2 separate regions of the Homo sapiens genome follow, and region 1 is linked to region 2. The links come from fine-mapping of genetic effects on gene expression. A gene starts in region 2. The other region holds a variant in brackets. All regions are shown on one strand. Distances are from middle to middle. Region 1 overlaps ZNF317 (zinc finger protein 317). Region 2 holds the start of ZNF317 (zinc finger protein 317).

What was found. PIP is the estimated chance that this variant, and not a neighbour inherited with it, causes the effect.
Region 1: its variant is fine-mapped to the expression of ZNF317 in monocytes after interferon gamma (Fairfax 2014, PIP 0.95).

What each region holds. Positions count from the first base shown.
Region 1 is chr19:9,161,053-9,173,790 of GRCh38, forward strand. It overlaps ZNF317 (zinc finger protein 317), which reads left to right. Exons shown (of 7, transcript NM_020933.5): 7 at 1-2,361. The coding sequence ends at 381. Among named protein-coding and RNA genes, the nearest start is that of OR7D2, 12 kb to the right of the region's middle. The variant C/T (reference allele first, on the strand shown) is at 6,045.
Region 2 is chr19:9,134,745-9,147,482 of GRCh38, forward strand. ZNF317 (zinc finger protein 317) reads left to right here and starts at 5,653. Exons shown (of 7, transcript NM_020933.5): 1 at 5,653-5,848. RefSeq lists enhancers at 5,316-5,415, 5,466-5,675.

The DNA.
Region 1 (12,738 bases), 26 kb after region 2:
CAAGAGAGACGCTACGAATGCGCCGCCTGCGGGAAAGTCTTCGGTGACTATTTATCCCGGCGGAGGCACATGAGCGTTCACCTTGTAAAGAAACGAGTTGAGTGTAGGCAGTGTGGCAAGGCCTTCAGGAACCAGTCAACGCTGAAGACGCACATGCGAAGCCACACGGGGGAGAAACCGTACGAATGCGATCACTGTGGGAAGGCCTTCAGCATAGGCTCCAACCTGAATGTGCACAGGCGGATCCACACCGGGGAGAAGCCCTACGAATGCCTTGTCTGCGGGAAAGCCTTCAGCGACCACTCATCCCTCAGGAGCCACGTGAAAACTCACCGGGGAGAGAAGCTCTTTGTGTCATCCGTGTGGAAAAGGCTCCAGTGAGCGCGCCTGCTTTAGAGACACAGGATGATTCAGACCGGAAACAGACCTCGTGGGTGTAAGAGGAAGCCTCTGTGAGCTCGCACCTTACTGGGTGCAAAAGAATCCACGGAACTTGGGAGAAGTCCAGTTCCTGTAAAAACTGGGAAGACGAGGCGTTCTCATCCCATAGGAGGTTTGTGAGAACTCACGCCGGGGGTGAAAATGTACGTCTGTAGCATGGAGAAGCCTTCAGGGTACATTCAGCTCTTAACAAACACAGGAGGACTTAATGGCAGCTTGGCATTTAATGTCAAAATCCAAGCCGTGGCATTTAATGTCAAAATGACTTCAGACCACTTCTAGCCTTCTGGGCCCATGAGTAATAATGAGCACACTAGGGAGCATCTCTGTAAACACAGTGGCTGGGGAAACCCTTCCTAGTCTCACTTGATTCCTCATGACGGAAATCACACTAAAGAGAGAAATCAGTGAAGTAAGGAACGTGGAAGGTCATGAATGGGCCGCAAACCACGGCCAGCTGCTTGTCTTTGTATGGCTTGCCAGCTAACAATAGTGGTTCCATCTTTAAGGAAGAAGAATGTTTGATGGAGAAAATTTGTGGCCAATGAAGTCTGAAATACTTCCTGTCATCTGCCCCTTTCCAGAAAAACTTGGCCGACCCTTGGTCTACAGCACGGGTTCTCAGTCGGGCGACGATTTGGCTGTCTAGGCGTCATTTGGCAATGTCTAGAGACATTTTTGGTAGTTAGAATGGGGGGAAGATACTCCTGACTTGTAATAAGAAGACATCAGAGATGCTGCTAAGTCGGCTCCAGCACACAGGAGCCCCCCACAACGAAGAGTTAGTGCCCCCAAACGTCACTGTTGCTGAGGTTGAAAATAATCATGCAGTCATTCCTCAATTACTGCCTGCAGCAATTCCTCCATTTTTATGAATCTTGTGAGCACTTACGCTAGGAGAAATTTCTTTTACAAAACTTTTAAAATACAATTAGTGCTGATAATTCCTATGTGGAAATGATTCCAGCCATGGTCCCCTCACTTGAGCATGTGAATATTCTCACGGAGAGAAGCCCCAGCGAGATTTTCCGGTGAATACGGGATTGCACTTACTCTTTCATCACGGAAACAGACCCCCCGAGAGAAGCCCCAACGAGATTTTCCGGTGAATACGGGACTGCACGTACTCTCTCATCATGAAAACAGAGCCCCGTTCATAAATTTTTCATCTTTATTTTTAAGGTTATACTCCTCTAAATAACCCTTAAGCCTCATCAAGAAAGGTTTGTTTATAGTATTTTTACTATAGCTTCATCCTTGATAACGTCCTAATTTCCTTCTGGACAACCTCCTTGACCAATGGCATATTGAGATCTATGTGACATGAGGATATTTCTCAGTACCACTTTGTTACTGGTACCTGATGCACACGGATTGCGACCAGAGCATGATGCCTCCATCAAGTGGTAATATGTTTGCAGCCTGCTGTCCAGCCAAGAGTGACAGATACTTCTAGTGACTTCCCCGGTATCCACTCTCATCTTCTTCCAATATCAAGAGAATCCAGGTTCTGTCAGATTAGTAAGGTGTGCTAATCTAAATTTTAAAAAATCTCTTACAGGTTTTCTTGCAGCTGGTACCATCCATGTCTCACAGCCCTGGCCACTGACAGATCAGCAGATGTCACCACATGGGCTTCTGAGAAAGCTCTTGAATGGGGATCGTTCTTAAACATGAATTCCTCCCTGTATGTTTTGTTCTTTGCTTTACTTTTCACCTTGCAAAGAGATCCAGTACCTAGTATTGGAAGATCCACCTTAACGACCGTGCATATGAAAACCACAGTCTAAGGAAGTGACTGCAGAAAGCTCACAGCGACCCTGGCCTCCCCTGTGGCCTCTTTGAGTGTCTGCAGCAGCCCTGGACTTCCAGACTTCTATCACATGAGAAAAAATAAAACTGATTATTGGTTTAAGCTGCTATGGATATTTCATTGTTTTTCTTTTAAATTTATTTATTTTAAGATGGGGGTCTCCCTATGTTGCCTAGGCTAGATTCGAACTCCTGGGCTCAAACAATCTTCCTGCCTCAGTCTCCCAAGTAGCTGAGAATACAGGCATGTGCCACCACACCCAGCTTGTTTTTCTATTTCATTTGTTTATTGGTGGGAGGGGGTTTCTACACCCAGCTGGATGCTGCCTGGAGCCCATACACCTGGTCATTGGTCAGTTGTGTGGTTTTTTTTTGTTTTTTTTTTTTTGTTTGTTTGTTTTTTGAGACAGAGTCTTGCTCTGTCACCCAGGCTGGAGTGCAATGGCGCGATCTCGGCTCACTGCAAGCTCTGCCTCCCAAGTTCATGCCATTCTCCTGCCTCAGCCTCCTGAGTAGCTGGGACTACAGGTGCCCGCCACCACACCCGGCTAATATTTTTTTGTATTTTTAGTAGAGATGGGGTTTCACCGTGTGAGACAGGATGGTCTTGATGGCCTGACCTCATGATCCGCCCACCTTGGCCTCCCAAAGTGCTGGGATTACAGGCGTGAGCCACCGCGCCCGGCCATGTTCAGATGACTGATTAGCCTATCAAAGGCATTCTTCCGTTTCTTTATGGTGGCTTTGATTTCTGATCTTTCCTTCTGATTCTTTGAGTCTCTATTTTTCTGCTGATGATGTAGGGCAGATGAGCCCCCAAACTGGGGGTTAGCCCAGGAGGGTTCTTGGCTTTGCTCAGGAAAGAATTCAAGAGGCAGCCAGCAGTAAAAGAAATTGGGTTTATTGAAGCAGCAGGGCACAGCAGAGTGGCTGCCCCTTGTGGAGCAGGGCTGACTCATAGGCAGTATACCCAGGGTAGCAGCATATAGGCTGTTGGCTAGCAGTATTTATACCCAGTTTTAATTACATGCAAATTAAGGGGTGGGCTATTCAGACAGCACTCCTCATTCACCTTCCACCATGATTGTGAGGCCTCCCCAGCCATGTGGAACTATGAGTCCATTAAACCTCTTTATGAATTAGGCAGTCTCAGGTATGTCTTTATTAGCAGTGTGAGACACAGTTGCTCCGGCCTATAAATGACACATAGTTTTAAGTCTGTTTCCTGCAGTTCTCCTATGATTGGCCAGGGTTTTGATTCTGTTTTGTTTTTTTGCATTTTCAAATTAAGGGTAGATGATTCTGAGGGTCTTGCTCCAGCTCTGTCTCAGGCCCCCCCACCAGCTATCCCTCTTTCTTGCAGTTTACCTAACAGAGCCTTGGGGTGGGCATGTGTGGGACCGTGGTGCTAAGATTTAATGCTTTTTCTCATTTTACTCATAGTTATGTTGCAATTTTGGCATTCTCTATGTCTTAAAGGCAGTGTTGAAGGTATAGTTTTGTGTAGAAGATTCATAGGTGTGGAGTTACTTCACAGCATTTGAAAGGGGATTTGGGGAGGTTGCTTACCACTCACTGGCCATTGTTTTTAGTTACCTGGAAGTCTCCTCACCTTAGTTTTTGGAGATACTTTGGCTGAATATGTTATTTTATTTTATTTTAATTTATTTTTTGAGACAGAGTGTCGCCCAGGCTGGAGTGCAGTGGCATGATCTCAGCTCACTACAACCTCCACCTCCCAGGTTCAAACGATCTTGTGCCTTAGCCACCTGAGTAGCTGGGATTATAGGTTTGCACCACCATGCCTGGCAAATTTTTGTATTTTTAGTAAAGTTGAGGTTCCATCACGTTAGCCAGGCTGGTCTTGAACTCCTGACCTCAGGTGATCTGCCTGCCTCAGCCTCCCAAGGTGCTGGGATTACAGGTGTGAGCCACCGCGCCTGGTCTGGATATGCTTTAAAGGGGTCATTTCTTTGTCTTCTGGCCTCCATTGTTGCTGACTAAAAGTTAGCGTTATTCTTAACATTATTCCCCTGTAAGTAATGTAAGTAATGTGTTGCTTGTCACTGGCTCCTCTTCAGATAATTATCTTGGGTTTTCAACAGTTTGACTCTGTGTCTTGGTGCAGTTTCCTGTGCATTTACTCTGCTTGGGGATCCTTCAGATTCTTAGATACGTGAGTCACTGTCTTTCACAAGGAAGTATTTGGCCATTATTTCTTCATAATTTTTTAATTGTGGTAAAATAAACATAACATGAAATTCACTGGGTTTTTTTGTTTGTTTGTTTTTGTTTTTTGAGGCAGAGTCTCGTTCTGTTGCCCAAGCTGGAGTCCAGTGGTGCAATCTTGGCTCACTGCAACCTCCACATCCTGGGTTCAAGCAATTCTCCTGCCTCAGCCTCCTGAGTAGCTGGGACTATAGGTGCGCACCACCATGCCCAGCTAATATTTGTATTTTTAGTAGAAATGGAGTTTCACCATGTTGGCCAGGATGGTCTTGATCTCTTGACCTCATGATCCACCTGCCTCGGCCTCCCAAAGTGCTAGGATTACATGTGTGAGCCACCGCGCACAGCCCCATTTTAATCATTTTTTAGGTGTACTGTTCGGTGGCATTAAGTACATTGACAATATTGGCTACCACCACTATCCATTTTCAGATCTTTCTCTTCATTCCAAAAAATTATGTACCCATTAAGCAATCACTCCTCAACACTTCTATCTTCAGCCCCTGGTAACTTGTAGGTAGTGTCCATGAATTTTGTCAGAAGTAGAATAATAAAATACGTTGTTTTGTGTGCGTCTGCCTTATTTCATTAAAAGTAATGTTTTCAAGGCTTATCCATGTTGTAGCATGTATCAGAATTTCATTCCCTTTTATGGCTTAATAAATTCTGTTGCATGTATGTGTCACGTTTTATTCATTCATCTATTGATGAACATTTGGGCTGTTTCTACCTCTTGGCTATTGTGAATCATACTGATATTGATGATTTTTTTTTCTTTTTTCTTGAGATGCAGTCTTGCTCTGTTGCCCAGGCTGGAGTGCAGTGGCGCGATCTGGGCTCACTGCAACCTCTGCCTCCTGGATTCAAGCAATTATCCTGCCTCAGCCTCCAAAGTAGCTGGGTACTCGCCGAGTAGCCTGCCACCATGCCCGGCTAATTTTTGTATTTTTAGTAGAAACGGAGTTTTACCATGTTGGTCAGGCTGGTCTTGAACTCCTGACCTCAGGTGATATGCCCGCCTCAGCCTCCCAAAGTGTTGGGATTACAGGTGTGAGCCACTGCGCCCAGCCTGAAGACAGCATTCTTAGCATGAAGGATGCAAAGTTGAGGCAAAGGAGATCTATCCAAACCAACCTCATTACACTACGGCTTCTGAGCCACTTCTCTACCTGATTAACCACCCTAGCCCACACCCTTGGTTTTATCCCATTAGCGCAGTTTACTTGTCTGTCCAATTCAGTTTATAAGTGTTTGGCTCTTAACTGCTTTTCTGGCTTGTTTCCTTATGAGGAACCCCATGCCACATAAAACTTTCATTAAACAAATACATGTGTATGCTTTAATCTTGTTAACCTAATCGTATGTCGGTGTAATTATCAGGCCCAGCAAGGATCCTAAGATGATGAAGGTGAAATCTTGTTGCCCCTACAATATGGACATTGGATGCAAGTGTCTGTGTGAGTTCCTGCTTTCAATTCTCAGGAATTTTCCGAAGTTGTTTTCTTCCTCATTTTCTCCTTTTGGGACTCCAGCTGCGCCACAGGACTCTGAAGTTCCTGTTT[C/T]ATTTTTCTAATGTGTTTGTTTTCCAGTTTGTATGACTTCTACTGATATATCTTAAAGTTCACTAACTCTTCTGTCCTCTTCATCTGTGGAATCCATTTAGTGACTCCTTAAAATCCAGATGTCTGAGGTCCTTAGGAAAACAGGTGCTTCTCCCTGTTGTAGCTTGAATTTGCTCTGAATGTGGTGGTCCCCTAAGCCAATAACACAATGCCTCCTGGCCTGCCCTGGCCACCCAGGGAGGAATGAAGGGAGAGGTAGGTGTAGTGGTAATAAGCCTTGCTGTGCACAGCTTTGTGTAATAACTGAAAAGGGTGATGTGTTTTCCTGCTCCCATCCCCAAGCCTGATTTCTTCAAGATGCAGTAACTGGGACGGGTGCAGTGGCTCATGTCTGTAATCCCAGCACTTTGGGAGGCCAAGGAGGGAGGATCACGAGGCCAAGAGTTCGAGATCAGCCTGACCAACATAGTGAAACCTCATTTCTACTAAAAATACAAAAGTTAGCCGGGCGTGGTGGCGCGTGCCTGTAGTCCCGGCTACTGGGAAGCTGAGGCAGGACAATTGCTCGAACCCGGGAGGCAGAGGTTGCAGTGAGCCGAGATCACACCACTGCACTCCAGCCTGAGCGAAAGAGTGAGACTCGGTCAAAAAAAAAAACAAACATGTAGTAACTGACACCCCCCACACATGCCCTCCCCTCCACCTCCTGTTATTTCATTAGAAACCCTGCCAAGGAACAAGGAAATCCTACAAAGAAGGTGTCTCAGGTACCCATCAGCAGCCATGCAGTGATGACAAGTGGGTCTGATGCCATTAAAAGGTTGTTTTCAAACCACCTTCTGTTGCAAGCAGAACCCAATTGCACAGGAATCCAAGCTCCATGATGGAGCTTTGGCCATTGTTTTTAGTTACCAGGAAGGAAAATGGCAAGATTGAGATTAAGCCTGGAGGCCCGGCGGGGACCTCATGGCTGTGAAGACCCTGGACTCCTGTGTTGCTGGAGATAGTGTTTGTGCTCTCACATGGTCTGCTCAGCCGTCTTTCTGCCATTCAGCACAACGGAAGGACCTAGTGTGTTTCCAGGGTGGGAGCCTACGAGTGGTGGACTCTGACTTTGACATTCGGGACAGATTTATTCCTTAATTTTCTTCCTTACATACTTGGTTCATCTGAGGGCCTCAGACTCCCTCTCCAACAGCCTTCTACCCTCTCCCATTTCCACATTTTCATTTTTGAGCTTCCTTAGCTAAGTGGTTTTACTTTCTTCCCTTTCCATCTCTCTCTCTCTCTTTATATTTCTTTCTCTAGATTTTTAAAATTCTGTCTCTCTCTTTTCTCCAATTTCTCCATTTCCCTCTTTTTTTTTTTTTTTTTTTTTTTTTTTTCTTTTTCTAAGTCAGGGCCTGACTCTGTCGCCCAGGCCAAGTGCAATGGCATGATCTCAGCTCACTGCAACCTCCACTTCCCAGGTTCAAGGGATTCTCTTGCCTCACCCTCCAAAGTAGCTGGGATTACAGGCACACACCACCACACCCAGGTAATTTTTTGCATTTTTAGTAGAGACAAGGCTTCACCATGTTGGCCAGACTGATCTCGAACTCCTGACCGCAAGTGATCCTCTCCCATTTTGGCCTCCCAAAATGCTGGGATTACAGGCGTGAGCCACTGCGCCTGGCCTTACATTGTTATTCTGCACACATTGGCCATTGCGGGCATCGTTCCTTACCTGAGTGAACACATCCATGCATTCCTAATATGTGTGTCCTGGGAAACCTGGGTTTGGAGTTTGGAGTTTGGAGTAGAGAGGCCAAGGGTTTGCAGTCAGGCAGGTTACTTGCAAAATATTTACGTATCAGTCAGATACATTGGCTCATGCTTGTAATCCCAGCAGTTTGGGAGGCTGAGGCTGGGGGATCACATGAGGTCAGGAGTTGGAGACCAGCCTGGACAACATGGTGAAATCCCGTCTCTACTAAAAGTACAAAAAAATTAGCTGGGCATGGTGGTGCATATCTGTATTCCCAGCTACCTGGGAGGCTGAGGCAGGAGAATCACGTGAACCAGGGAGGCGGAGGTTGCAGTGAGCCGAGATTTTGCCACTGCACTCCAGCCTTGGTGACACAGCGAGACTGTGTCTCAAAAAAAAACAAAAACAAAACAAAAAAAAATTATATATATATATATATATATATATATTATGTATTGTGCTAAGTTTCTTCTTTGTAAAAGCCCTTGGGGGACTGTTAAGTGTGTGTCTCAGCTTGGATTTGGGTTTTTTTAGACCAGAGATCCCTGGTCCCTTTGGAGGTGTGAGTATGAGGGTATTTGTGTCTCTTGAGAAGGTCTAAGAGTTGCCATCAGTTTGGTGGCAGGGTATGTTGTACTTAGAGATCTTGTCAGAATGGATAACTCATTTTACCTCCATCACTTACGAAATGACTTTTATCAGCTACATTAAAATGCTAGCAATGTCATACTACATTCTCATAAATACTGGGAATTAACTAATGACTTTCTTGTCCAGGTATTTATAGGCTTTGGCAAGGCAGCAGTACACAAAACTGGTCCCATTCATAGTAATCTTGACGTTAAACTTTGGAGCCAGAGTACAAGCGAATAAATAAACACTAGGAAGAAAAGTAAATGCGGAGAAGAATAAATGCTGTGAGGAAGAGTAAAGTTGAGGAGGGGAACAGACAGATGGGATTGACCCGTTCAACCTGTGCAGTGTACAGCGTATACTCTTTTTTTTTTGAGATGGAGTCTCGCTCTGTCGCCAGGCTGGACTGCAGTGGCGGCGATCTCGGCTCACTGCAACCTCTGCCTCCCGGGTTCAAGCGGTTCGCCTGTCTCAGCCTCCCAGATAGCTGGGACTACAGGCACCTGCCACCACGCCCTGCTAATTTTTTTGTATTTTAGTAGAGACAGGGGCGTACACTCATTTTTGGCCACTTTACCTTTTTAGGAAACAAAATCATCACAGAAATCCTCAAGAGGCAGCTTTCCTGTACATTTCAGTTTCTCCTAAAACAGAACAGGGCTGGGAATGCTTACTGAGGAATCATCAAAGCATTTCTTTCTGTCATGACAAGAGCAATTCCAGCTTGCTCCATGAGACCCTGCTTCTCTCACTGTATTTGGTTTTCAGGTTGCAAGATTTGAAGAACACTTGTCAAAACTCGACGGTTATTTCTGTTTTCAAGGACTGTTTGATCTGCATTTTCTTCCAGTCCATTCATTTCTATCTGGTTTGGCCTCCAAGGTCTTAATCTTTTGCCCAAGAAAACGCTTACATTTAAGCAACATGAGTTCCTTGATTTGTCTGTAGCCCAATGCTACTTTCTTGAGTTCAGAATAAAAGCTGATTATTATTATTATTTATTGTTATTATTATTTTGAGACAGAGTCTTGCTCTGTCACCCAGGCTGGAGTGCAATGGTACGATCTCGGTTCAGTGTTACCTCTGCCTCCCAGGCTCAAGCAATTCTTCTGCCTTAGCCTCAGGAGTAGCTGAGGTTACAGGTACCCACCACCATGCCTGACAAATTTTTGTATTTTTACTAGACAGAATTTTGCCATGTTGGCCAGGTTGGTCTTGAACTCCTGGCCTCAAGTGATCTGCCCACCTCGGCCTCCCAAAGTGCTGGGATTACACCAGCCTTGGGACTTGACAGTTTTTTTTTTTTTTTTTAAGATGGAGTTTCGCCCTTGTTGCCCAGGCTGGAGTGCACTGGCGCGATCTTGGCTCACCATAACCTCTGCCTCCCAGGTTCAAGTGATTCTCCTGCCTCAGCCTTCCTGAGTAGCTGGGATTACAGGCATGTGCCACCATGCCCGGCTAATTTTGTATTTTTAGTAGAGACGGGGGGTCTCTCCATGTTGGTCAGGCTGGTCTCGAACTCCCAACCTCAGGTGATCCGCCTGCCTCGGCCTCCCAAAGTGCTGGGATTACAGGCGTGAGCCACCATGCTGGGCCCTTGACAGTTATTTTGACCTAACATTGGTGATAATTTTTCTCTACCTCAACCAAGAAGATGGCGGATTGGAGCACTTTTTTCATAGATTGACCAGTCTTCCCAACAACACTGGAGGCCAGTCATTTACTTTCTGCAGAGAAAGAGACATGTCAAAGAGTCAACTTACCAGCTGGAAACTGGGACTAGTGTCAAGTGCTTACTCTGACATTCAGCTCTTGTTTCACCTCTTGACCCCTTTCATGCCTGCATCAACCAGTGGATCTGCTGGGCTCAGAGCACATGACAAAGGGGCTTGTGGTGTTCCACTTGGCTTCCTGAAATCCCTTCCTTTCCCCTGGCAGTGCTTCCACGCAGGACTTTGAGTGTGTAGTCGGGGCAGTTTACATCCCCAAGTGAAAATGCTGAACGTTCAGCAAGCCTTGGTCAAAAGTTTTCCTAGGCTCACTAGTGAAGAAATAGCAATTACTCACTGGCTATTGCCAGGATTGAGAAAAAGAATGTGTACCCTAGAGGCCGGGCCCAAGGGGAAGAGAGTACTTTCTCTCAGCATTGAGTAAAATCGGCCATTTTTTAAATGAGCCTTGGGAACCAGCATAACTGGTCCCTTTGTGCCCAATTTCTCCATCCCGATAATGAATTCCATGGATAACCTCAGTGGCCCATGACAGTTGCCTCTCATTGCACTTCCCTGCCAGTTCTCAGAAAGAAAGTGTCACACAGTCTCTGGAGGGAACTTCTAATTACAGGAACACAGTCTGCTTGTCTGAGTCTTGTTTTCAGTTCTTGGACCCTCTCCAGCAGGGAAAATCTCTGTCTTGTGTAACCTTTGGGTAACATCCAATCCACTCAGGAATTCTTCCCTGCTAGGGAACCTATTGTATATACCCAATGAATATTAGCTAAGTGCCTTACACTTTTAATTAGGTTTTGGGAAGAAAGATCAATAAGACAAAGTACTGCCCTTAAGAAAGTAAAGGTCTAGGAGAAGAGCGATATTAACAGTAAATAAGACACCTAGTATGGCAGGTGAATCCATTTGGGAGGCCCCAGATGAGGAAGATGTTGAACTGGGGGCCATCAAGAAAATCTAAGTAGAAGAGATGATGCAAGCTCAGTGTAGAAGGATGATTATGATTGTGATTATGATTATTTGGAGATGGAGTCTCGCTCTGTTGCCCAGGCTGGAGTGCAGTGGCGCGATCTCAGCTCACTGCAACTTCCGCCTCCCGGGTTCAAGCGGTTCTCCTGCCTCAGCCTCCCGAGTAGCAGGGACTACAGGCACACGCTGCCATGCCTGGCTAATTTTTTGTATTTTAGTAGAGACAGGTTTTACCGTGTTCTCAGGCCAGTCTCAAACTCCTGAGCTCAGGCAATCTGCCCACCTCGGCCTCCCAAAGTGCTAGGATTACAGGCATGAGCCACCGAGGCCTGCCTTGTAGAAGGCTCATTAAGAGTTCAGGAGCAGAATCAAATAAGCATGCTAATCCTGAGTGCAAAGGCACTGAAAAAATGACAGTATATTACATTCTGTAGATAAAAGACAATCTTTGGAGTAAGAGGCAGACTTGAAAGGTAATATGGGACAGATTGGAGAACACACACATTTCCTTTATTCTCTCTCTTTTTTTAAAGACTCGGTCTCATTCTGTCACCCAGATTGGAGTGCAGTGGCATGACCATAGCTTTCTGCAGCCTCAACCTCCTGGGTTTAAGCCATCTGCCAACCTCAGCCTCTTAAGTACCTGGACTATAGGCACACACTACCATGCCTGACTAATTCTATTTTTTTTATTTTTGTAGAGACACAGTCTTGTTATGTTGCCCAGGCTAGTCTCAAACTCCTGGGCTCAAGCAATCCTCCTGCCTCAGCCTACCAAAGTGCTGGGATTACAGTCATGAGCCACTGTGCCTGGCTCACACACATATATCTATATGTTAGTCTACTAGTTTCAATGTAAATGTTAGTTGGAAATCGATGGAAACAAATTGATATTCAATGAAGTTTGCAGTTGAGCAAGGTAACTGGTTCCCAGTTGCGGAATGGAATGAAGGGTCCTGTTTCTATGAGCTTTTGTTTCATAGCCACCCAAAACATGGTGGTTTAAAGCAACCACCAGGCCGGGCTCAGTGTCTCATAATCCCAGCAGTTTGGGGGCCAGGCAGGAGGATTACTTGAGTCCAGGAGTTCAAGACCAGCCTGGGCAACATGGTGAACCCCCGTCTCTCAAACAACAACACCCCACCACCTTTTATTTAGGGTTTGTTTGTTGACAATTTGGGCTGTGCTTAGCCTGAGAGTTCTCTTGACTGGCTTCTGCAGTCACTGTCTAGGTGGGGTGGGGTTTATTGTTCTTCGTTCAAGGTCTCATTCCTCCAGTCGTCCAGGTAAGGCCTGTTCACACATTGCTGGAGTGTTCCAGCAGAGCTTGTATTGGGAATGCCTATGCCCCATCAGCCAGTGCAATCATGGGTGAGCCCAAGGTGGAAGGGCACTCAGTTACACAAAAGGGGCTTGGATATAGGGAAGAAAAGACACAGTGGCCATTCTTTTCTGCAGTTGGCCACAAGGCCAGTATATTATTGCAAGAGTCTAAGTAAGGGGAACATCTTTATTGAGAAGTGATGAACATGTGGGAAATTCACATATTTATTTATTTATTTATTTTTTATTTTTTTTTTTTTTGAGACAGAGTCTCGCTCTGTCACCCAGGCTGGAG
Region 2 (12,738 bases):
GGCTAATTTTTATGTTTTAGTAGAGACGGGGTTTCACCATGTTAGCCAGGCTGAACTTGAACTCCTGACCTCAAGTGATCTGTCTGCCTCCCTAAATGCTGGGATTACAGGCATGAGCCACTGCACCCGGCCCCAACTTCTTCACCCTTTCGGCCTTACTGCATCTCCTCTCCTAATGCATAGAGGCCTCCAAGCCATCTATTCTTCAACCATGTTGCTATTTATTTATTTTTATTTATTTTGAGATGGAATCTTGCTCTGTAGCCCTGGCTGGAGTGCAATGGCGTGATCTCAGCTCACTGCAACCCTCACCTCCCGGGTTCAAGCAATTCTCCTGCCTCAGCCTCCCTGAGTAGCTGGTATTACAGGTGCCCGCCACCATGCCCAGCTAATTTTTGTATTCTATTTATTTATTTTGAAATGGAGTTTTGCTCTTGTTGCCCAGGCTGGAGTGCAATGGCAAGATCTCGGCTCACTGCAACCTCTGCTTCCAGGTTCAAGCCATTCTCCTGCTTCAGCCTCCTGAGTAGCTGCGATTACAGGCATGTGCCACCATGCCCAGGTATTTTGTATTTTTAGTAGAGACGGGGTTTCTCCTTGTTGGTCAGGCTGGTCTTGAACTCCCAACCTCAGGTGATCCACCCACCTTGGCCTCCCAATGTTATGGGATTACAGCCGTGAGCCACCGCGCCTGGCCAACCTCATTTCTTTAACTAGGTAACTGAGATTCAATCATATATTTTCCAAAACCTCAAATTCCCTACTCTCTGTCCTATCATAATACCTGCCCTGGAAAACGCTAACCATCTGTCTCTCCTGCCTACATAATTCTGCCGCCACGCGGTGATATGGGAAGCGCTAAAAAATTTGAGATCACCTACTCTAAAGGGGCCTTCGACACTTCAGGAAATTTCCAGTGGGCAAAGATCTTTTCATGATTTCTGCAGGATTTTGAATTCACACCATCTCAACTTCCCTCTTTTTTTTTTTTTTTTTTTTTTTTTTTTGAGACAGAGTCTTGCTCTGTTCCCAGGCTAGCGTTCAGTGGCACCATCTCGGCTCACTGCAACCTCCAACTCCCTGGTTCAAGCTATTCTCCTGCCTCAGCCTCCCGAGTAGCTGGGATTACAGGCACGCGCCACCACGCTCAGCTAATTTTTGTATTTTTTTAGTACAGACGAGGTTTCACCATGTTGGCCAGGATGGTCTTGATTTCCTGATCTCGTGATCCGCCCGCCTTGGCCTCCCAAAGTGCTGGGATTACAGGCATGAGCCACTGCGCCCGGCCACAACTTCCCTGTTTAATAACAAATGATTTTACAACTTACTGCAGAGAGAAATAGTAACGACCATGAGAAAGATTTCTCACCTTCTTTATTTTTTCTCTTATCCTAGATTCGAGAGATTTCTCACCTTCTTGACACTAGTGCGAAAGTAGTCCAGTAACAACATCACCAGTTCTTTCTTCTTTCACTCTGCAAGCAATGAGATGTCTGCCTTCTTATCTACAGCCAGTATCTCCTGCTTTTTTTTTTTTTTTTCTTTGATACAGAGTCTCTGTCACCCAGGCTGGAGTGCAGTGGCACGATCTCCGCTCACTGCAACCTCTACCTCTTGGGTCCAAGAGATTCTCCGGCCTCAGCCTCCTGAGTAGCTGGGACTACAGGCACGCACCACCACGCCCGGCTAATTTTTGTATTTTTAGTAGAGACGGGGTTTCACCATGTTGGCCAGGCTGATCTCGAACTCCTGACCTCATGGTCCACCCGCCCCGGCCAAAGTGCTGGGATTACAGGCGTGAGCCACCGCGCTCGGCCATCTCCTACTTTTCTATGCAAGGGTTTCTCATCATTGGCACGACTGACATTCAGGACCTGGTATTTCTGTTAGAGGGAGTAGGGCATTCTATACTCTAACCACTAGATGTCAGTAGTATCCCGGGTAGTGGTAAAACCAAAGGCGTCTCCACAGGTGGCACAATTGTCCTTGTTAAGAATCAAAACGTGCCTCACTCATAGGTGGGAATTGAACAATGAGATCACATGGACACAGGAAGGACATCACACTCTGGGGACTGTTGTAGGGTGGGGGGAGGGGGGAGGGATAGCATTGGGAGATATATCTAATGCTAGATGACAAGTTAGTGGGTGCAGCACACCAGCATGGCACATGTATACGTATGTAACTAACCTGCACAATGTGCACATGTACCCTAAAACTTAAAGTATAATAATAAAAAAAGAAAAAAAAACGTGCCTGGCGCCGTGGCTCACGCCTGTAATCCCAACACTTTGGGAGGCCAAGGCGGGTGGATCACTTGAGGTCAGGAGTTCGAGACCAGCCTGACCAACATGGTGAAATCCTGTCTCTACTAAAAATACAAAATTAGCCAGCCATGATGGCTAATTACAGGCTTCATACCTGTAATCCCAGCTACTCGGGAGGCTGAGGCAGGAGAATTGTTTGAAGCCGGGAGGCGGAGGTTGCAGTGAGCCGAGATCGCACCATTGCACTCCAGCCTGGGCGACAAAAGTGAAACTAAGTCTCAAAAAAAAAGGGACCCAGCGTGGTGGCTCACGCTTGCAATCCCAGCATTTTGGGAGGATGAGGCAGGTGGATTGTTTGAGCCCAGGAGTTCAAGACCAGCCTGGGCAAACATAGGGAAACCCTGTCTCTATGAAAAATACAAAAATTAGACAGGCGCTGTGGCATGCACCTGTAGTCCCAGATACTTGGGGGGCTGAGGCAGGAGGATCACTTGAGCCCGGGAGATCGAGGCTGCAGTGAGCCGTGCACTGCAGCCTGGGTGACAGAGCAAGACTTGTCTCAAGAAAAAAAAAAAAAAAAAAGGCATGATACTGGCATAAAAATAGAAACTAAAGGAACAGAACAGAGAGCCTGGGAATAAATCCAAACATATATGATGAACTAATTTTCAATAAGGGCACCAAGAGGACAAAATGGGAAAAGGATAGCCTCTTCCGTAAATGCTGCCAGGAAAACTAGATTTCCACATGCAAAAGAAGGAAATTTGACCCTTATCTTACGCCATACACAAAAATCAACTCAAAATGGATAAAAGACCAAATATATATATATATATTTTTTTGATATTACACCAAAAGATCAGACTACAAAAGCAAAAATTAGTAGACAAATGGGACTACATCAAATTAAAAAGCTTCTACATAGCAAAGGAAACAATCAACAGAATGAATCGGCGATCCACGGACTGGGAAAAAATATTTGCAAACCACATATCTGATAAGGGGTTAATATCCAAAATTTATAAAGAACTCTTATAAATCAATAGCAGAAAAACAAATAACCTGATTTTAAAATGGGCAAAGGGTCTGAACAGACGTTTTTCCAAAGAAGGCATAAAAAAGGCCAGCAGGTATATGAGAAGGTGCTCTACATCACTAATCATCAGGGAAATGCAAATTAAAACCACTGTGAGATATCACCTCACATCCTTAAGGAGAACTATCATCAAAAAGATAGGAGAGGCCGGGCGCGGTGGTTCAAGCCGGTAATCCCAGCACTTTGGGAAGCCGTGGCGGGCGGATCACCTGAGGTCGGGAGTTCGAGACCAGCCTGACCAACATGGAGAAAGCCCGTCTCTACTAAAAAGACAAAATTAGTTGGGCGTGGTGGTGCATGCCTGTAAGCCCAGCTACTCGGGAGGCCGAGGCAGGAGAATCGCTTGATCCCGGGAGGCGGAGGTTGCGGTAGCTGAGATCTCACCATTGCCCCCCAGCCTGGGAAACAAGAACGAAACTCCATTGCAAAAAGAAAAAAAAAAAGGAAAAAAAAGATGAGAGATGAATGTTGGCGAGGGCATCAAGCAAAGTGAACCCTAGTACATTGTTGGTGGGAATGCAGACTGGTACAACCTTTGTGGAAAACAGTATTCAGGCTCTTAAAGAAATCTACAACAGAACTACTATATGACCCAGCAATTCCTCTTTTGAATATATGCCTAAAAGAGATGAAATAATCACCTCATAACGATGTCTGCACTTTCATTTTCATTGTAGCATTATTTACAATATCCAAGTTACGGAAACAACCTGAATGTCCATTGATGCTCACATGAATACGAAATACAAAATAGCAGCTATGTAGTCTGAATAATATTCTATCTCTTTTGTATTTATATATGATGTCAACATTAATATCATATAATATTGATATATATTTCATATTATATTAAATATTAATATAATATGTTGTATATAAATATATACCTATTACATAATAGATATTCCCATTATGTTATATATCATGTAATATATTATATGTAATATATGTATATAATATACTATATGAAATACATATTATATATTATATGTATTATTATATGTATATATGCTATATATTATGGTGTATATATTATGTATTATGAAATATATATTACGTTATGTAATATAGATTATATATTATATATGAATATCTTATATCCATATATATTCCATACATACATTTTATATGTGTGTGTATATATATATATACGCACCATGGTCCATCCCCTCAATAATATATTTTCCAAAACCTCAAATTTCCTTCTCTCTGTCTTTTATAATACCTGCCCTGGATAATACTAACCATCTGTCTCTCCTGCCTATATAATTCTGCCCCTACTGGTTACATGGGAAGCCTTGGTTTCCTAAAGTGTTGAGATTACAGGTGTGAGCCACTGTACCCAGCCTGATTCTGGAATTTTGTATATGCAGACTCCTCCTGCTAAAATAATATATATTATATATAATATATATTCCATAATATATATAACATACATACATATATTATTTTAGCATATATTATATAATATACGGTAATAATACACATAATACATAATTATAATAAATATGATATAATATATATTCCATTGTATAAAACATATAATATATATAACGGAATATTATTCAACCTTGAAATAGAAGGAGGTCCTGACATTTATCACAAGATGGGTGGACCTGGAGGACATTACGCTAAGTGAAATAAGCCAGACACAAAAAGAAAAATATTGCATGACGTCACTTACATGAGGAACTTTTTTTAATCAAGAGAGACAGCTCAAATACACAGAAATAAAGAATGAGGCAGTTGGGGAAGAAAATGGGAAGATGTGGGTCAAAAAATACAAAATAGCAGATATGCAGGATGAACACCACACAGGTGATGGTGATTTTACGCCCTTCCCAAGGTGTCATTCAGAGGCACGTGGTCTCCATCTGACCCTCACTGGTGATATTGATTTGATCACCTGGTCCAGATGTTGTCCAATTTCTTCGCTGTACAATTTCTATTACTTTTTCTCCATTCCAACATACGAGCAGTTTATAGAGAGGCATTTAAGGCAATTCAAATATTCTGCTCGTCATGCAAATGTCCCCCAGTTGTGTCATGTAGATGACAATTCTTGCCTGATTCAACCTTTACCACTACGATGGCTACAAAATGCTGTGGGTTGTGGTTGAAAATTTGAGTCTTGAGTAGAAATTGGAGAAATATGCTGGACCGTCAGATTCCACCGGGGCACGGCCGCCATGCCAATCCAAACTTCAAAACTACAATTCCCAGCATCCTCTCCGCCCCGCTTCCGTATTAGACGCCGCCAATGAAGTCCCGCGAGAATTGGAAGGCGGCAGTGAAGCGGAAGCCATTACTCTCTGGAGTCGATTGCCCCGAGACACATGGGCCAAGGAGGGGTCAGCGGCGAATTCTTTCGGCCTGTTGGGGACCCCTCGTGTCCCCACGCCAGACTGGACCTCCCGTATGAACTTCTCTTCGCATCGGCGGCGGCTTCCGTCACCTCCGCTCCCCCGATCCTATTCCCAGTCGTGTAAGCCCTGCTTTCCTTAACCCTTCTCCCCCTCAGTTCCAGGGGTCACGGGAGGCCTATCTGGCGGTGAGGACTAAGAGGGTACGAGGGTCGGGGGCTAAAGAGCTAGGCATCCAGACGAGGGGTGCGTTTAGATCTCGCGATCAGCGATATGAAAAGCTGGGGACGCGAAGGATAAAATTGGACCATTGCAGCTAGTGATGAGAGAAGCATTGGTCACCTGATCCTGAAAAGCCCTAAGTCTCTGGTGGGGGCGGAAAAGCCCGGCTGAAGTGAATTCAAGAGTTTGGGGGCAGTTCAGGAGATTGGGGGGCGTCAGGATTTGGACATCGCGAGGAGAAATCACCTTCTTTCTGCGCTGTAGTCAATTTTATCTCGTGAATGTCAGCACATTGGTGTTCTTATTAGCACTTACCTTGAGTACCTTTTATATTTTTAATTTAAGACCTTCTGGTTGCACTTTTTTATTTATTTTAATTTTAGTGGACTCTTGTAAATAGCCTATATGTATATTTACTATTCAGTTCAACATTTTGTTAATTAACTTGAGTTAGTCCAGTTATACTTATCGTGATTATTAATATTTTCCATTGAATTTTACCGTCTTATTTTGTGGTGTGTCCTTTCCTATGCACATATTTTAACACTGGAAAATAGGACATACATGCAAAAAAAGTATGATTACACACACACGCAGACTTACACACACTTAAAAGGACAACAGTAAAGCGAATTTACAAACCAGGCCAAGAAAGAGATTATTAAATCTCAGAAAGCTGTGTGCCTCTTCTAAACTGCATCCTCCTCTCCCACCAATACTGTCTCCGTGGATTTGACTGCGTATACATCTTTTCCAGAAAATATATTTCCTAAATTTTGGTAATTATTTGTGAATGAACTCAGGCGCTTCAGTATTTTTGGAAACAATCTTTTTCTGTATTGATTCAAGCACACCTTTGTAATTTAGAGATTTCTAAATATCTTGTAGATGAAGTACTTACACCTAGCCATTCTTTTTCAGGAATGTCATGGCTTAAATTCTAGTCAGTTCACCAAATTCCACATACTGGACTTTTGTTTTCAAGTTGTGGTGAATCTATATTTGAACTTTGGGAATATTGTCGTTTTTATGCCATTGAGTTGCAGTTAATTGATTTACATCATTTATTTACATCTTCTTTAATGCCTTTCAATAAAGTGTTTTTTGTTGTTGTTGTTGTTTTTTCCTTTTTGAGATGGAGTCTCACCCTTGTAGCCCAGACTGGAGTGCAATGACAATCTCGGCTCACTGCAACCTCTGTCTCCCTGGTTCAAGCGGTTCTCCTGCCTCAGCCTCCCGAGTAGCTGGGAATACAGGCACCCACCACCACACCCAGCTAAATTTTGTATTTTTAGTGGAGATGGGGTTTCAACATGTTGGCCAGGCTGGTCTCGATCTCCTGACCTCAGGTGATCCACCGGCCTTGGCCTCCCAAAGTGCTGGGATTGCAGGAGAGAGCCACGATGTCCGGCTCAGTAAAGTTTTATAAGTACCTGCAAAAAGGATTTAGGTTGTTTTTGTTATATTTATTCTTGGGAACTTTGTTTTTTGGTGCTCAGAAAAGTCTAACTTTTGTGTAGTTTGTTGGATGTTCTTCGTAGACAAGGAAAATGTGTACAATTCAAAAGGAAAATACAAATATTTATTTTATACAGACGATAAATTGTCTTTTTTGTTTGTTTGTTTGTTTGTTTGTTTTTTGTGCTGGACTGGGTGGGGACTTCCCTTGTCATTGACTGGAGTTTGGATGGCACACTCTAGGCAAGCCTGTTTGTTTTCTGATCTTAAAGGGAATTGTCATTTGTGTCTGCCGAAGGCTTTTCTGTCGAATAGTTTTTATTAGGTCAAGGAAGCTCCCCTCTTTTCCTACTTGAGTTTTTCTTGTGAATTGCTGCAGGCTTTTAACAAGTGATTTTTTTTTTTTTTTTGCCATTATGTATCTGTTTATTGATACATTTTGTATCTGTTTGATACAAAATCTATATTGATAGTTTTGTATCTGTTTATTGATACATTTCTAGTACCTTAAATTATGGCACTCAGTACTGCTGTGTAACAAATTAATGAGTGAATAATATAATTTTTTTTCTATCCTGTAGTGTGGCAAATTAAACCAATTGATTTTCTCTTGTTACATTGAATTTGTATTGGTAAATAATTTGGAAAGGACATGTTACTATTTGTTACTTTTGGCTTCGGTTTGCTAATACTTTGTTTGGTGTTTTTGGATCTATGCTTGAGTGAAATGTTCCTTTTCTGTTTCAGATTTATGCCAGCCTCATAAAATGGGATGAGAAGTGTTCTGTTTTCTAAACTCTGGAATGTTTTGCATAAGAATAGAATATTTTGTTCCTTAGAACGGGAGTGGTACCTGGAAAAACCATTTGGGTCTGGAGTTTTCTTTGTGGAAAGTTTTAAAGCTATTGTTTCTGTTCTTTTAAGGTTTGTGGGGCATTCAGGTTTTCTGTGTTGTTATGATGAGTAAAATTTCTTTAGGAATTTATTTATTCCATCTGAGGTTTAAATCGTATAGTCAGGGTTGTTCATAACATACTCAAATTTTTAATGCTTGCTGCATTTGTAATGTTATCCACTTTTTTATTTATAATAATTATATGTTGCTTTTTACAAAAATAAATTCCATCAGAATGTTGTCAGTTTTCTTCTTAAAGAACTTCTGGCTTGATTGAACCACTTTATGATATATATGTTTTCTATTTTATAACTTTCTGATTGTTATCATTTTCTTCCTTTTTGGGATGTTTCTTTCCAGTTTCTTATGTTGAATGCCTGTCACATCCCAAAGAATTGCAGTATCATACTTTATTGTATTTTAATTATAAATATCAAATATCATGGCTTCTTTGGCATGCAGATTTAGAATTTTTTTCTTTTAATTTTCATTTCTGTGACTTTTTTTCTGGTTATCTTTTGGTCATTGTTTGCCAACTGCATTGCTCTGTGGTCAAGCATTTTCTGAGACAAACATGGCCCCATGAGTGCTGTCTCATCATGTTCAATCTGCACATAGTTATTGAACTGCCTGCTTAAACTGGATTTGTGAGAGCTCTGGTGGTGGCTTCATCCATTTCTCCTTAGAATTCTGTCCCCCCTTTTTTTTTTTTAATTTTTGTGTTTTCCTTTTTTTTGAGGCTGTGTTTTATACACACAGGCACACACACACACCTCTTTTTGGATTTATAACTTTTTATTATGTAATACTTCATTTTTCTCTATGAGCCTTTTTGCCTTAATCTATTCTGTCTGATACTAACATTCAAACCAGCTTTCTTTTTTTTTTTTTTTACTTGCCTTATATATCCTTTTATTTCCATTCTTATTGTACTCTTTTTTCTTTCTTTCTTTCTTTCTTTCTTTCTTTTTTTTGAGACGGAGTTTCACTCTTTTTGCCCAGGCTGGAGTGCAATGGCGCGATCTTGGCTCACTGCAACCTCCACCTCCTGGAATCAAGTGATTCTCCTGTCTCAGCCTCCCAAGTAGCTGGAAGTACAGGCGCATGGCACCACACCCAGCTAATTTTTTTATTTTCAGTAGAGATGGGGTTTCATCATATTGGTCAGGCTGGTCTCGAACTCCCAACCTCAGGTGATCCACCTGCCTTGGCCTCCCAAAGCATTGGGATTACAGGCATGAGCCACCGCGCCCGGCTCTTATTGTATTCTTATATTTTAGATATCTCTTGTACGTAGCATATAATTGGATTAATCTATTCTGTGAATATTAGTATTTTAGTTAAAGCATTTATTCTGTTAGCATCTTCTGTATTAATATATTTGAATGTTACATTTGTCTTCTGTTTTTTCTCTAGCTTCTTTTGTGTATTTTTGTCATTCTCCTTTTTTATTTTCTGTACATTTTGAATTTATTTACTCTATTATTTCAGTGGTTGTTCTAAATAATTCTTACCCATGCTCATTCACTAAATCTAGATTTGCATATGTTACTCTCCTGATTTACATGGTTTTCTTATGCATTTTCATTCTTTCTTTATTGATATATCATAGTTGCACATATTGAGTTCTTTTTTTAAACCTCAGAAGAAATTATTATTGCTATTGCATACCATCATTTCTTGTTTCATTATACTCACATGTTTATCACTTTGAGCACTTTACTTGGTTCTTACACTTTTTGGTGTAATTCTTCCACTGTTTGCTTTGGTTCTTTAATTACTTCTTTCTCCCTGAGGTATGTCTTTGATGATGTCTCTTTTCTGTGGGTTGCAAGCCCACAGGAACTTTGTTTTTTGGTGCTCAGAAAACACCTCTTTCTCTCTTTCTCAGTGGACATTTTTGGTGGTAATAGAATTTTATATTTCAGAACTATGAAGATGTTCCATTATCTTCTGGCTTCCACTGTTAATGATGAGAAGTCAGCTGTCAGTCTAATGTTTGTTTGTTTGTTTTCTGAGACAGAGTCTCACTCTTGTTGCCCAGGCTGGAGTGCAATGGCGTAATCTCGTCTCACTGCAACTTCTGCCTCCTGGGTTCCAGCAATTCTCCTGCCTCAGCCTACTGAGTCGCTGGGATTACAGGCATGGGCCATGACACCCAGCTAATTTTTGTATTTTTAGTAAAGACAAGGTTTCACCATGTTGGCCAGGCAGCGGTTTTAGGAGCCTAGAAATGTGAGTTTTTCGTTTTGTTTTGTTTTGAGACAGGGTCTTGGTATGTTGCCCAGGCTGGTCTCGAACTCCTGCGTGCAAGTGATCCACCTGCCTTGGCCTCCCAGCATGCTGGGATTACAGGTGTGGGCCACCATGCCCAGGCTTACTTTGTTTCTTAATGGAGAGATATTTACGGTGTGTTTTAACAAGACCTCCAGGTGACTCCCATGTAACTTAAAGTTTGAGAACTATTGCTTAAAAGGTAACCTGTCTTTTTCTCCTCTGGCTGCTGTTCAGATATTCTTTTTACCGTTGGTATTATCTGGTTCATTGTGCTTAAGATTTTATCTCTCTTCAATCTGTTTATATTTTCCTTCAAAATGAAAAATCTACAGCCACTATATTTTGCAGTGATTGCCTAGGCTCCTTCTCTGTCTCTCATCAGTAACTCCAGTTAGAAATGGTTCAATTCCTTATCTTCTGCCCCCACGTGGTTCTTAGCTGTATTTATGTTCCTCAACTCTTTTTCTGTGCTTCCCTTGCATTTATTGCTACAACTGGCTTTGAAACTTCAGCCTTCATAAAAATTTCATGTAGAGTTTATTAAAATACTGATTCATCAGCCCACCCCAAAGAGAATTGAACTGAGATATGATCTGGGTGTCAGAGTTACTTAAAGTGTTCCAGGGGACGCTTATGCAGCAGACTATATTTAAGAAACAAATTATTATTATTATTATTATTATTGGCTGTGTATAATCTAAAAGCTATTTACTTAGGGCTTTTGTTGTGGGTTTCCATTTTGCTTTTTTTTTAGCAATTGTAATTGCCCTTTAGAAATCATAAATTTTTAATTTTCTGAATGTTAATTTCTTGCCAGCACATGAATTTGAAACCTATCATCTGTCTGTACTTTGTGTTGCATTTGAAATAGTTATGCATGGAAGGTTTAATTGGGGCACCTAGGTTGCTTGTTGGAAACAGAATTCCTACCCTGCTCCCCACCCCCTGGGACATCTCATCTAGCTGGTTGAAAGGAGGGTATATTGATTTACTAATGTAATGCATTTCTGGACCAAGAAAATGGCATATGATGTTCTCACAACCTTTGTTGCCTTCTCTGTCTCTCGCTATATATATATTGTATATATTATTTATATACTTTTTTTCTTTTTTTTTTTTTTGAGGCAGTGTCTCATTTCTGTCACCCAGGCTGGAAGTGCAGTGGCATGATCTTGGCTTACTGCAACCTCCGCCTCTCAGGTTCAAGCAATCTTCCCACCTCAGCCTCCCAAGTAACTGGGACTACAGGCATGTGCCACCATGCCTGGCTAATTTTTTTGTATTTTTAGTAGAAACGGGGTTTCACCATGTTGGCCAGGCCAGTCTTGAACTCCTGACTTCAAATGATCTGCCCGCCTCAGCCTCCCAAAGTGCTGAGATTACAGGCATGAGCCACCATGCTGGGCCTATATTTACGTGAATAACAGTGGTAGAAATGGTTCTAGCAAGGGCAGAAATACCAGTCAGTAAAAGTAACAAAATAATTATTCTCTCTACAGTATTTACATCTGCAAATTCTGAATATCCTGGGATACTGTGATTAAGTTGAATATGGGGATAAAATCAAATATTGGGAGAATTATGGTCCTGAGAAAGCTCATAATGGAACAGTTTTGGGCAACATTTGTTTTGGACCACAAACTTGATGGAGGAGGCAGATCTTCTAAAACTGAGGAGCAGGGCTGGAGCAAGGGTGAGGTTTGTGAGTGCAGAGCCAGGGAGCCACTCGCTCTGAGCCAACCTTGTGCTTGTCTGACACCAGAAGTGCTTCCTTAAATACCACACTCTTGTCTAGCAGCCTTGGTTGCCTCATCCCAGTCCTGGCCCTGGTGAGGAGAAAAACAGATCCCAATGAGAATAGAGTAAGATGTGTAGAAATAGAAAAATAGAACTGCTTTCACCATGCTGTAAAGAAAATTAAAAGAGAAATTAAGCAACCCCAACAGCTCTGAAAAATTAACCTGTCCGTTCTAACTCATCCATGGTGACAGCATTCCAATGACACTGGTTTTTTTTTTTTTTTTTTTTTTTTTTTGAGATGGAGTCTCGCTCTGTCGCCCAGGCTGGAGTGCAGTGGCACAGTCTCAGCTCACTGCAAGCTCTGCCTCCTGGGTTTCACACCATTCTCCTGCCTCAGCCTCCTGAGTAGCTGGGACTACA